Regions from separate parts of the Homo sapiens genome. Here region 1 is linked to region 2. A link means that fine-mapping ties the variant in region 2 to the expression of a gene that starts in the linked region. Tissue or cell type: whole blood. Region 2 holds a variant in brackets; the other region holds the start of a gene. All regions are shown on one strand. Distances are from middle to middle.

What was found. PIP is the estimated chance that this variant, and not a neighbour inherited with it, causes the effect.
Region 1: it holds the start of GRB10, and the variant in region 2 is fine-mapped to the expression of GRB10 in whole blood (TOPMed, PIP above 0.99).

Annotation. Positions count from the first base shown.
Region 1 is chr7:50,780,358-50,785,396 of GRCh38, reverse strand. GRB10 (growth factor receptor bound protein 10) reads left to right here and starts at 2,501. Exons shown (of 19, transcript NM_001350814.2): 1 at 2,501-2,973; 2 at 4,661-4,770.
Region 2 is chr7:50,643,850-50,648,889 of GRCh38, reverse strand. The region is part of intron 7 of GRB10 (growth factor receptor bound protein 10); the gene reads left to right. LOC124901632 (a long non-coding RNA gene) reads right to left here. Exons shown (of 2, transcript XR_007060323.1): 2 at 4,941-5,040. Among named protein-coding and RNA genes, the nearest start is that of DDC, 81 kb to the right of the region's middle. The variant C/T (reference allele first, on the strand shown) is at 2,692.

The sequences.
Region 1 (5,039 bases), 140 kb before region 2:
TGCGGCTCAATAGAGCTGTGGACAGGGCCCAGGGAGGTGAGGCATAGGAAGTGTTTGTCCCATGCAATTTGGCCACATCTTTCACCTTAGAGGCTTCGCTTAGCTGTCTGGGGTCTTCCCACTTTCAAAAGGACATTGCTCAGAAGCTGACAGGAGCCCTGTGTGAGTGAGCATTTAACTGTGGCCTCTGTGGATGGACGCCTGGTTGCTTGTTGTGGGGCTCATGCTTTTGGGTCTCTTCTCAGCTCTGCAGGAGCCTCTTTCAGTTCTGTTGGAGGTGCTGCTCCAGGAGCTGCTGGGGATGGTGGTGGGATTCATATGGCAGCTAGCATGTGATCCACCAAATCTTTCTGGGACTAAAGGCATGGCTGTGTCTGCTGATCCTGGTCCAGAGACCTGTGTCCCTGCTTCCAGAAAAGAAGTCACCTAGCTGATGGAGCTGGGGAGAGGACCCGGGATGAAATGGGGCCCAGCTATTCCTGACACTTCCGATTAATCTTCTTGTTTTGGACTCTACGTTTCCCATTTCCAGAGGTGAATGGTAGTTCTCATTCCTGAGACTTTCTGGGCTTCCACTGAGTATATCATCAGGCTTCATCTCCACTTTCCAGCTTAGCCTTCATCTCTTTTGCCTTTGCTGTCAGTTACTTCTTGACCACTGGCTTTTATGCCTTTTCAAAGATTCTGTTCTTGTTCTAGTAAAGCAAAATGTGTGTCCTGTCAGCCATTCAGTGAAGGTCTGGCTTTTCAAGATTCCTTGTCCATCATTAGATCATTTCTCTCTTGCTCTTCCCACATCCAGGAACAGCTGCTTCGAACTGGGACCTCTGGCATTTTGTAATAGAGGGGAGTGTGGCAGGGAAGCCCTCTGTCCTGCACAACCTGTTGTTCTAGCCCAGGAGATGGCAGGGTGCGTGGGATGTTCAGGCAAAGGAGTTCACCATCCAGGCTGGGAGCTGCTGGGCAGGGAGGCAGAGGAACACTCGAGCCACCTTTGTGGGGTTGACTGCAGAGGTGGAAGAAGCCACTGTGTCAGACCGCAGAAAAGTCTCATATCTGGAGTCTGGAAGGAAAGCCAAGTTCTCCCAGTCAGTAACCTGCTCTGGACTTTGGATAAGTTACATAATTTCTCCACACTTTGGTTTCTCCCCGAATCTCAGGGTTTGATTCTGTGCTTCCATTTCCCATTCTGTGCCTTGCGATGTTCACTATGTGACATCTTCTCTGAGGGGTGCGCAGTTAGAGTCAAAAGCGCTAACACCTTCAATGTTTCTTGCAGTAGCCAGGCCATATGTGGTCAGCCCGGACTGTGAGAAAAGAAAGCCTTGTGTTACCCTTTGTGTTGTGTTGAAAACTGCTCTTGGCTGCTTTCAGAACCAGCCTTAACTCTGCTTTTGTTTGATCGACTTAAACATATTGGAATTTTGTGGTCATGACCACCGTGGAACCTCTCCTTTTGGAGTGCATATCTGCACTTTTTCCAGCCTCCTCCTCCAGTGACCTTCAGGGGCCTGACCTGGCCTCCGAGCAGTTGGACTAGGGTAGCTTTTCCACTCTTTGAACCCCAGACTGAGATGGGGTTTTCCCAGCGCCCTGCCCCTTAACGTGTGTGAATGCAGTATAGGATCTCAGTTTCAGAATCCATTGTCCACTGTTGACTGTTAGGTTCTTACTGCTGTCTACAATGTCTAGCTTTTCCTACCATGTTCTCTGCTAGAGGGGAGTAGAAAATCTGCTTACTGCTTACTGTGGCCTTGTAAACGGCAGTGAATATCTCCAAACGTTCTGTTTTGCTTCCATCATTGCAGGCTCGTGTGTATGTCTGTGGTGTATGTGTGTGCGGGGGTGGGGGAGTATGTGTGATGTGTGTGTGTGGTGTATGTGTGTGTGTGGTGTGTATGTATGTGTGTGGTGTGTATGTATGTGAGTGGGTGGGTGGGATGTGTGTGGTGTGTGTGTGAGGTGTGTGTGGGGTGTGTGTGTGTGTGAAGTGACTAGCACATAGCAGATGCTTGGTATGTATAGGATCTGTTCTTTCCCTCGCTGACTCTCAGTTTAAATGGGACCCTACTTTGTCCTCGTTGTTCAGTAACGTTATGCCTGTGGCTTCCAGAAAGAGCCTCTCCCTTCCTGGTTCTTGCTCTGACATTTTGGGGAGAAGGGTGAGACGAGAGTGATCCTGGAAGAGTAGAACTGGCCGGCCCTGCAGGTGGAAGGTTGCTCGAGCAGGCGGCATCTCTAGCTTGCCGCGGCCGCGATGTCCCCCGCCTGTCTGCGAATGCGGCGTAGCGGGTAGACATGGAGGGCTTTCGGCATCGTCAGAGTGGCCAGTGTGCGCGTCCTTGCCCATCAGGCGGGGGGGCTGTGGGGGAGGAGAGGAGGCAGTGGAGGGAACAAGGGGTTCTTCAGGGTTGCCATGAGAACCAGGGATCCGGGGATTGGGCAGCAGAGGGCCCCCGCCGGGCGTTGGGGCGTGGCCGCGTCACATGGGTTTGGTCCTGGGATTCCTGTTGTGCTCCAGGACCGGGCGCTGCTCCGTCGTCCTCCCGCTCCTCAGGAGCGCCCAGTCCCTCGGAGGCTGAGTATTGCAGCCGGGCGGCAGCCGGCTCCGCGGAGGGGCCCCCGGGCACCTGCGTGGTGATGGCGCTGGGAGCCCCCGGGCACGCTCGGGCGGTGGCGCGGCATCCCACCCTCGCCCGGATGGCGTCCCCAGAGGCGGCGTTGGCCCGCTTTTCGTGCTAGCGCGTTCGCCTGGCGCGCGGTGGCCCCGAGGCCCCGGGTCGGTTTTCTGCGCCGCAGGCCCCTGGCCGGGGCGGAGCCGTGGAGGACCAGCCCGGCCCGGCTCCGAGCGCTGTCCATGCGGAGCGCTGTCCACGCGCCGGGCACTGCGGGGGCCGGGCCCCGAAGCCCTACCCGGGCCGGCGGCGCACACGCAGCGACCCCGTGCGGCCAGTGCTGCCGCCCGCTCTCCAGGTACTCAGGTGGGCTCCGCCGCGGGCGCTGGGCGGTGGGCGGTGGGCGGTGGGCGCGAGCCGGGGCGGCGGGCGGATCGGCCTGCGCAGGCTGCAGAGGCCCCGGCCGCGGCGGACAGGGCCCGGGAGGGAGGCGGGGAGGTCTTGCCGCGCGGCCCCCTGCCCGCCTGCCGCGGGCTCGCTGCAGTCCGAGATCCCGAGCTTCGTTGCCGCCAGCCATAGGACAGTATTATGTAACCATTTTTAATCTTAATTGTTTAATATTATGTAACGAGTAATAACTGTACCCACGGAAACCCGTGACGACGATTCGAGCGAACCTCGCCCGCTCCTTCCTCGCCAGGTGGTGGGCAGCGGGTGTGGGAACCGGTTTGGGAAATGAGTGGATCTGGGCATCCGGGCTACTGCACCGGCTTTTTCTGTGAAAAACATAATGCTAGAGCCTGCCTGGAATTCTCTTAAACCTGGATGGCATATAGTCCGGTATAAAAAAGCTTTGAGTAAACACGTATAGTCAACGTTGCCTCTTTCTCCATGAAAACCTCTTTCTCCCTGGAAGGTGCATATCAGACAATGTGAATTGAGCAGTGAAGATGTGGGCATGGGGTTCGTGTTCTTGATGGAGTTCAAAAAATTGTGCATATGAACACGTAGGACGTCCTAGCCCTTGCTCTTTAGAAAAACAATCGGATCACCTGTTCCACACGCCAGTCGCCTCCTTGGTCGGCTGCCATTTGTCTGTTGATGGTACAGTCCCTGCCAGGGTGCTGGGGGGACCTCGTCTGCGGAGCCGGCACACAGGTGGCTATGGGCGGGGGAGACTGCAGTCTAAACCCGCAAAGCTCTCCTTCCTAGCCCAGTGAGGGGAAGCGTGGGTGTCTTTCCTCATTGTTCTTTTTAAGTCTGAAAGGCAGCGACTGCAGGGATTATGACGTGCTGGCGGCCAGGGCCTCGGGTGCTGCCTGGAGTCTCCTGCGTGTCTCTGCTCCTTTGATGTCAGCATCGGGGGTGGGAGCAGGGCCCACGCATTCCCCCTTTGGCCTGGGTGGGAACAGGGGAGGTGGTGGGCAGGGCCAGAAGGGCTTACTGGGATTTTCTTTCTCTCTGTCACTCCAGAGAAAGGTGGTAAAGAACACTTGTTTCAGTTTGAGGTGCTCGGCAGCCACGCGCTGAAGGACGGTTTTTAATTGTAGGGTGGGGTGTGAGTGCAGTGTGGTTCAGTCCCCTCCCCATCTTGTGCTACCTGCCGTTGTACCTGGACCTGTGAATCAGGGATAATAGTTACTATCTTGTAGGACTGAGAATGGTGCATACTAACTGCTGAGGAACATGGTGAATGGAGTTATGGTAATTGCACGATTGGCATGAAGGGGTGAGAGAAGTTCCAGATTGGTCGATTAAAATGTGAGTTATTTTTAGTGTCTCCTAAGGATTTCCATCACCAGTTGCTCCTCCAGCCATCATGTAATTACCACCCCAGAACTAGGCTTCCAAACTTCGAGAGAACACTGCATCTTTCGAATTTTGGAGGTTAGGCTCCAAAATTTGCATATTTAGGCCACAGCCTAAATTCACTGACACTTGTGTTCCCACAAAAGCCAGGCAGCTTCTTGGAGTATGTACTTGTGACTTAGTAAGAATGTCTTAGGAAACTCGCTTGGACTAGAATGGTTTTACCTTTCTTTCAGACTTGGGAGGCTGCATTCTGATAATTCTCAGGAGGAAGAATGTATAGGAGAGACCAGGGTTTTTAAGGTGTGACCTCTGAACCACCTACATCAGAGCTGACTGCCTCTCGGTATGTATCCCCAGGCCCCAGCTCTGAGCTACGAAACTGACTTTCTGGGCTTGGGACCTGGAATTCTTTGTCTTTGTAAAGCATGCCAGGTGATTCTTACAAGTATAAAGTCTGAGAACTGATGTGGTGTTCTGGGCCTTGTAACTACTGGGGCTTCTGGTGATTCAGTTAGAAAGTTAGCAGCTCCTGTCTGAAGGGTCAAGGGCAGAATGAGGGGAGGCCTTGAGGCAGTATGAGTCCTGTGGACCCTAGGAGGTCTGGGAGCACAT
Region 2 (5,040 bases):
AGGCCTGGGAGTCCCACCCAGAATATTTACTTTGTCCTCTCCTAGTGGAGCGGGAGAGCTGAGAAGATTGCTCTCAAAAGCTTCAAAGAAAAGGACCTGGGACTACTTCAAACAATAAGTCCATTGTTATGTCTCAGTGACCTTGATGACCTCCAGAAGTAGTGTTCTGGGCTCACAGCACACTGCCCTGAAGAAGGGAAACTCTGGAAGCCCAGAGGGAGTAGCTGTAGGAGGGATGTGGTCAACTGGAAAGTCCCCAGGCGTTCTATGGGAGGGGGACCTATGCTCTGCCATCCTTGGGCTGGCAGAGGACTTGGGATAAGGATTCCCAAAGGCAAAACTGAGGATGGGTCTTCCTTACCGCCTTGGGTCGAGGCTCTGCCTTCCTTTCCCTCACAGATTAAGGCAGTGGTTAAAATTACTGCTTTCAGAAGATTATCATTTTCCTTGGTTTCCTAATGCTCCTTTTTAAACCTTTTTAAAAACGTTCCAGCAGCCCAGCTTTTGTCCCCACTGTGCTATTCAATTCCACTTGTTCCCATCAGGGTGGCATCCACATGGCTAAAGCCAGCGGGGTTCTCTGTCTTCCGCTTGCCGGGCCTGCAGCAGCATGAGGGCTCCTGTCGCTCGCTGCTCTCCTTTCCACAGCTCCGTCTGGGTTTCCACCCTCTTTGCTGGACTTTCCTTCTCAGCCATCGTTGCTGGCTCTTCAGTCACTGGGCCTTGGTGCTCCGTCTCCCCTCTCTGCGCTCCCTCCCTGGACAGCCGTGGCCATTCCCTCAGCTTTCCATCTTGTCCCTATGTTGATTACTCCCCGGTTTACATTCCCATCCAAACTCTTCCTCAAGGCCCAGACTCCTGTTTCCAGCTGCCAACATGGCACCTCCATGTGGGTGCTTAAAAGACACTGCCAACGCAACAGGTCCAAAGTCAGCATCTGATCCTTCCCTCCAAACATGATACCTCCAAATTCCCATCTCAGAGCAGCAGACCAGTACCCCCATCAGAATTCCCAATTCCCTTCCTCACTCCTCTTTTGAGTTTCACGCCACCCCAGCCTGTGTACCAGAATTGGACAGCGCCTGCCTGGTCTCTGCTGTGGGACCCAGGCCTGGGCTTTACTTTCCTTGCCTGTGTCGTCATGGGAGCCTCCTGACTCAGCTGGTCCCCAGTTTCTGCCGCCTGGGAGGGAGCATCACAGTCGGCCTGTGGCATCTTTTGCTGCCTTTGAGGACCTTCTTAGCCAGCAGCCCTTTGCTGAATGTTTTTCCTTTGCCTTCTGCCATCTAACAATCTCTGAATTTTGCTTTTTGTCTATCTCCCCTACTTGAATGAAGTTCCATAAAGTCAAGGGGTTTTATTCCAGACCCGAATCCCAGCACCTTGGTGCCTGGCACGGAGAAGGTTCTCAGGGAGCATCTGCTCAGTGACTGACAGTGAGGGCACATCCGCACCCTCCCCATGTAGCTGGGCCTGAGATGGCTTGAAAAGGTTCGGCCAATCTGACTCAAATCTGAAAACATTTTTTCAAATTATAGGTTACATTTTAGGTTTAATGTTTCATTAAAGTTTGATTACCACCAAAGAAACTTTTTTCAAAAAAAGATGTTACTGGTGGAAATCCCTCTTGTAATTCTGGAGCACTAACTATTTTGATCTGCTTTTTAAGTTATAAAATGCTGAGGTTAGATGCCACATCTATATAACCAAGGTCTCTATTTAGACACTGATAGATTCTAAGTGAGTTTGTTTTGTTGTTTTGCTGAGACTGTTGTGATTTCTGTCCGAAGAGAGAATTGGACTCTTCATGCCTAAATGAGCTTTCTTCCATTAATAGGCACATTTCATCTTATGCTCCACACTTTCTGCCTCTTTTTAGTTAGTGATACTTTTATGGATGCTTGGGGTTGCCGACTTTGTGGCTGGGATGAGTGGAGGAGCCTTGAGCCTGGCTCTGCACCAGGGTTCCTATCTGGCCCCACCGGCCTTACCAGGTGGGATTGGTGCCCGTAGCAGCAGGGCTGGTTAAGTCTCAGTAGATGAGATGGAGGATTGGTTGTTGAATCATTACACCAATTGGTCCAAGAGCTACTTCCTTTTCTGGAGAAAAAGGCCTCCAGGAACATGAATGCATTAGAAGCTAGCATTTTCCCCAGAGAAGTTCACGTGAAAACTTTTTCCCACTCTACCCCCACTCATCTCTTTCCAAAGAAGCTGGTTCATTCAGTCAGGGCGTGACAATTTGCGGAATCTAGCACTACAAACAGGATTCAGAGTCAGGAGTAAGTTTGCCATGACTTATTACCATATCACCTCTATGTCCAACCAGGAGACCAAAAAAAGGAGAACCTATTTTATTTATAAAAGTAACATTCATAGTAAAAAACAAAAAGTGAAACAAATACTACAAAAAGGTATTTGGTAAACGGTGAGATTCACTTTCTTCTCAGTTTCCAACTCTAGTCTCATTCTCCAGAGGTGACACTGCGGACAGTATCTTGTGTATCTCTTCACAAAATTGATGTGCATTGTTGTGATTTCCCCTGCAGCTTCATAGTGTTGTGTTGTATGGAGGTACCGTGATAGATTTACCTCAACCCTCTTTTGATGAACAGCTCCCGGAAACAAGGGCCCCCGTGCTTTCCATTGTGTAACCTCACGTTCTAGGGTGAACGTTGCTAGGGGAAAAGA[C/T]GCTACTGAGATGTTTATATACCATTTAATGGCACATAAGCTTACTTTTGTTTGCAGCTTTTTCTAATTATGAATAGAGCTGAAATGAACATTCTCGTGCATGGGTCCTTGGTCATGAATGGGGTTGTGGATGGATAGACAGATGGATAGGTTGGTTTCCAGCAGTGTCATTGCTGGAGCAGAAGTTTTATGTATTTATAAGTATGTGGGTGGGTGTAGAAAGTTCATTTTTATAAATAATGCCAAGGGCTGTATGTCACTTATAATACGATGGGAAGGCATATGACTTGGGGGCTGGCCACTGGCTAGGACTCTGCAGTTCCTCGCAATGTGGCTTTGGACCAATTCTTCTCACTGCCTAGGGCCTCGCACCACTGGGGCTCTGGTGACAGTTCCCTGGGTGGTGAGGGGACTGTGTCCAGGCAATCTATCACTTTGATTGGCTGTTTCTGTAGTTTCAAGAAACTCTAGACGATGTTTACTGAGCCTGTCTGGGAGCAAATGGACAGACCCCAAGAGGTCTGATACGACGGCGTTTGCTTTCAGATCTGCCTGGAGACCTCTTGGAGTCTGAGAACTCCGGGCGATTGGAGGATGGGGGTAAGATGTGCACAGTCAGTTTCAGGTACTTATTCTTCTTGGTGTTAGACCTTCTGAGCTGGTGCTCAGCAGATCCTTTTTGTTTGCTTGGTTTTAAAGGAGTTAGTGCCCAAATGGCAGTGTTTTTGGCTCATGTTTCTTCCCTGCCAGCCCAGCAGACATACTCCCCAGATGGCTGAAAGCTGCTGTGGGTCACTGGTGATTTTTGCATGGGTTGTGTGGTTTTTAGTACTGAAAAAGTAGCAGGCTGGGAGTCCAAGGGCTGCCAGTGAGTGTGTTCTGCTTTTTCAAAGAAATCTCCATAGTTTCTGTTTTGCCTTTCCAGTTATCAGTATTTTTGTGATTATATAATCTCATTTTGATGGTATGTAAGCTTGCTTTTTAAAAAATGAATTATGGGCAGTATAAAGATTATTAGCGTCAACTGTATTCATAGCAAATATATTTTGGAGATAAATCGGGATTTTGAGGGTGAAAATTTTATCTTCAAATACATTTTCTGGCATGTTGTAATTGAATAAAATTATAGCCCTAAATGATAGCTCCATTTATGAAATTTTTCTCATGGCTGTCATTTTCTGCGTCGTCCAGACTGGAGATGGTACTGGGGATTATAGCCCTTTTGCAGTGTTTTAGCCATCCTGTGCCTGCTGTGTCTCTCAGCTTCTCAGACTTCACCGTTTGTGAATCTGCCAGTCTTCCTTCACCAACTGGTCCGCCCATCCCATACCCAGCCCCTTCCACCTGTCTGTCATTGTTCTGTCTGTCTAGCATCTGCCCACACCTTCTTGGTCATGGGGCCTTAGCAGACAGGACAGCCCTGCTCCACTGGCCAGTGGGTGGTGGCCCAGTGGGCTGTGTAGAGGCTGATGTCCCGCTCTTGCTAGTTCGGTGCTGTGATCCAGGGTACCGCTTTCACAGCAGGCCTTACAGAGCTTACCTGAGGTTCCCTACTCAGGAAATCACAGTTAGACCTGTCCTGCTTACTGATGGTCTCAGGTGAGAGTTTTTCTGAAACGGAATGCCCATCAGTCAGTGACAGGGTTTGAAATAAGACATGAAGGAGAAGTTGTCCTGATAAAGACAGTACATTACCATAAAAGTAGACTGATGATACTGCATGCGTTTCAGGTTGCTGGGGGGCTGCTTTTGGGCTTCCAATACAAGAGGGAGGAAGAAGGCAGTGGAAGCGGGTGCTACGTCCCTTCCCTATCTGTGTCCCTGAGCTCGGCCATCACATAGCCACCAAATAAAGAGCTCGGGCATGGACTAGGGGACCCTGTGATGGTCAGCTTGTGGGACCTCACTGGGCAGGTGAACACACACCTATAGGGACCCAGTTCCAGGGCCTGGACTCAAGGAACCCCACCTGGACACCTGGGATATTTTGTTGAACCCATTGAGCTCCTAGTCTGTGATTGAGCCACACTGGCTGAGTGTTTTGGACATAAATATCCGGGATAGTGAAGACAACTGCTGAATGGAAAAGAAACAGAGATGCTCCTGGTGAAGATAGCCCTGAAACAAGGGCCCCCATGCTTTCCACTATGTAACCTCATGTTCTGGGGTGATCGTTACTATGGGAAAAGATACTACTGAGATGCTGAGTGAAGAGAGGAGAGCCGCAGGTCATTATTTTCACGCACGTATGTTTCTTTAAACTTTTATTTTGAAAAAATTTCAAATGTATAGAGAAGTTGCAGTAATAGAGCAAAGAACTCTCATATATTCTTTACCCTGATTCCCCAA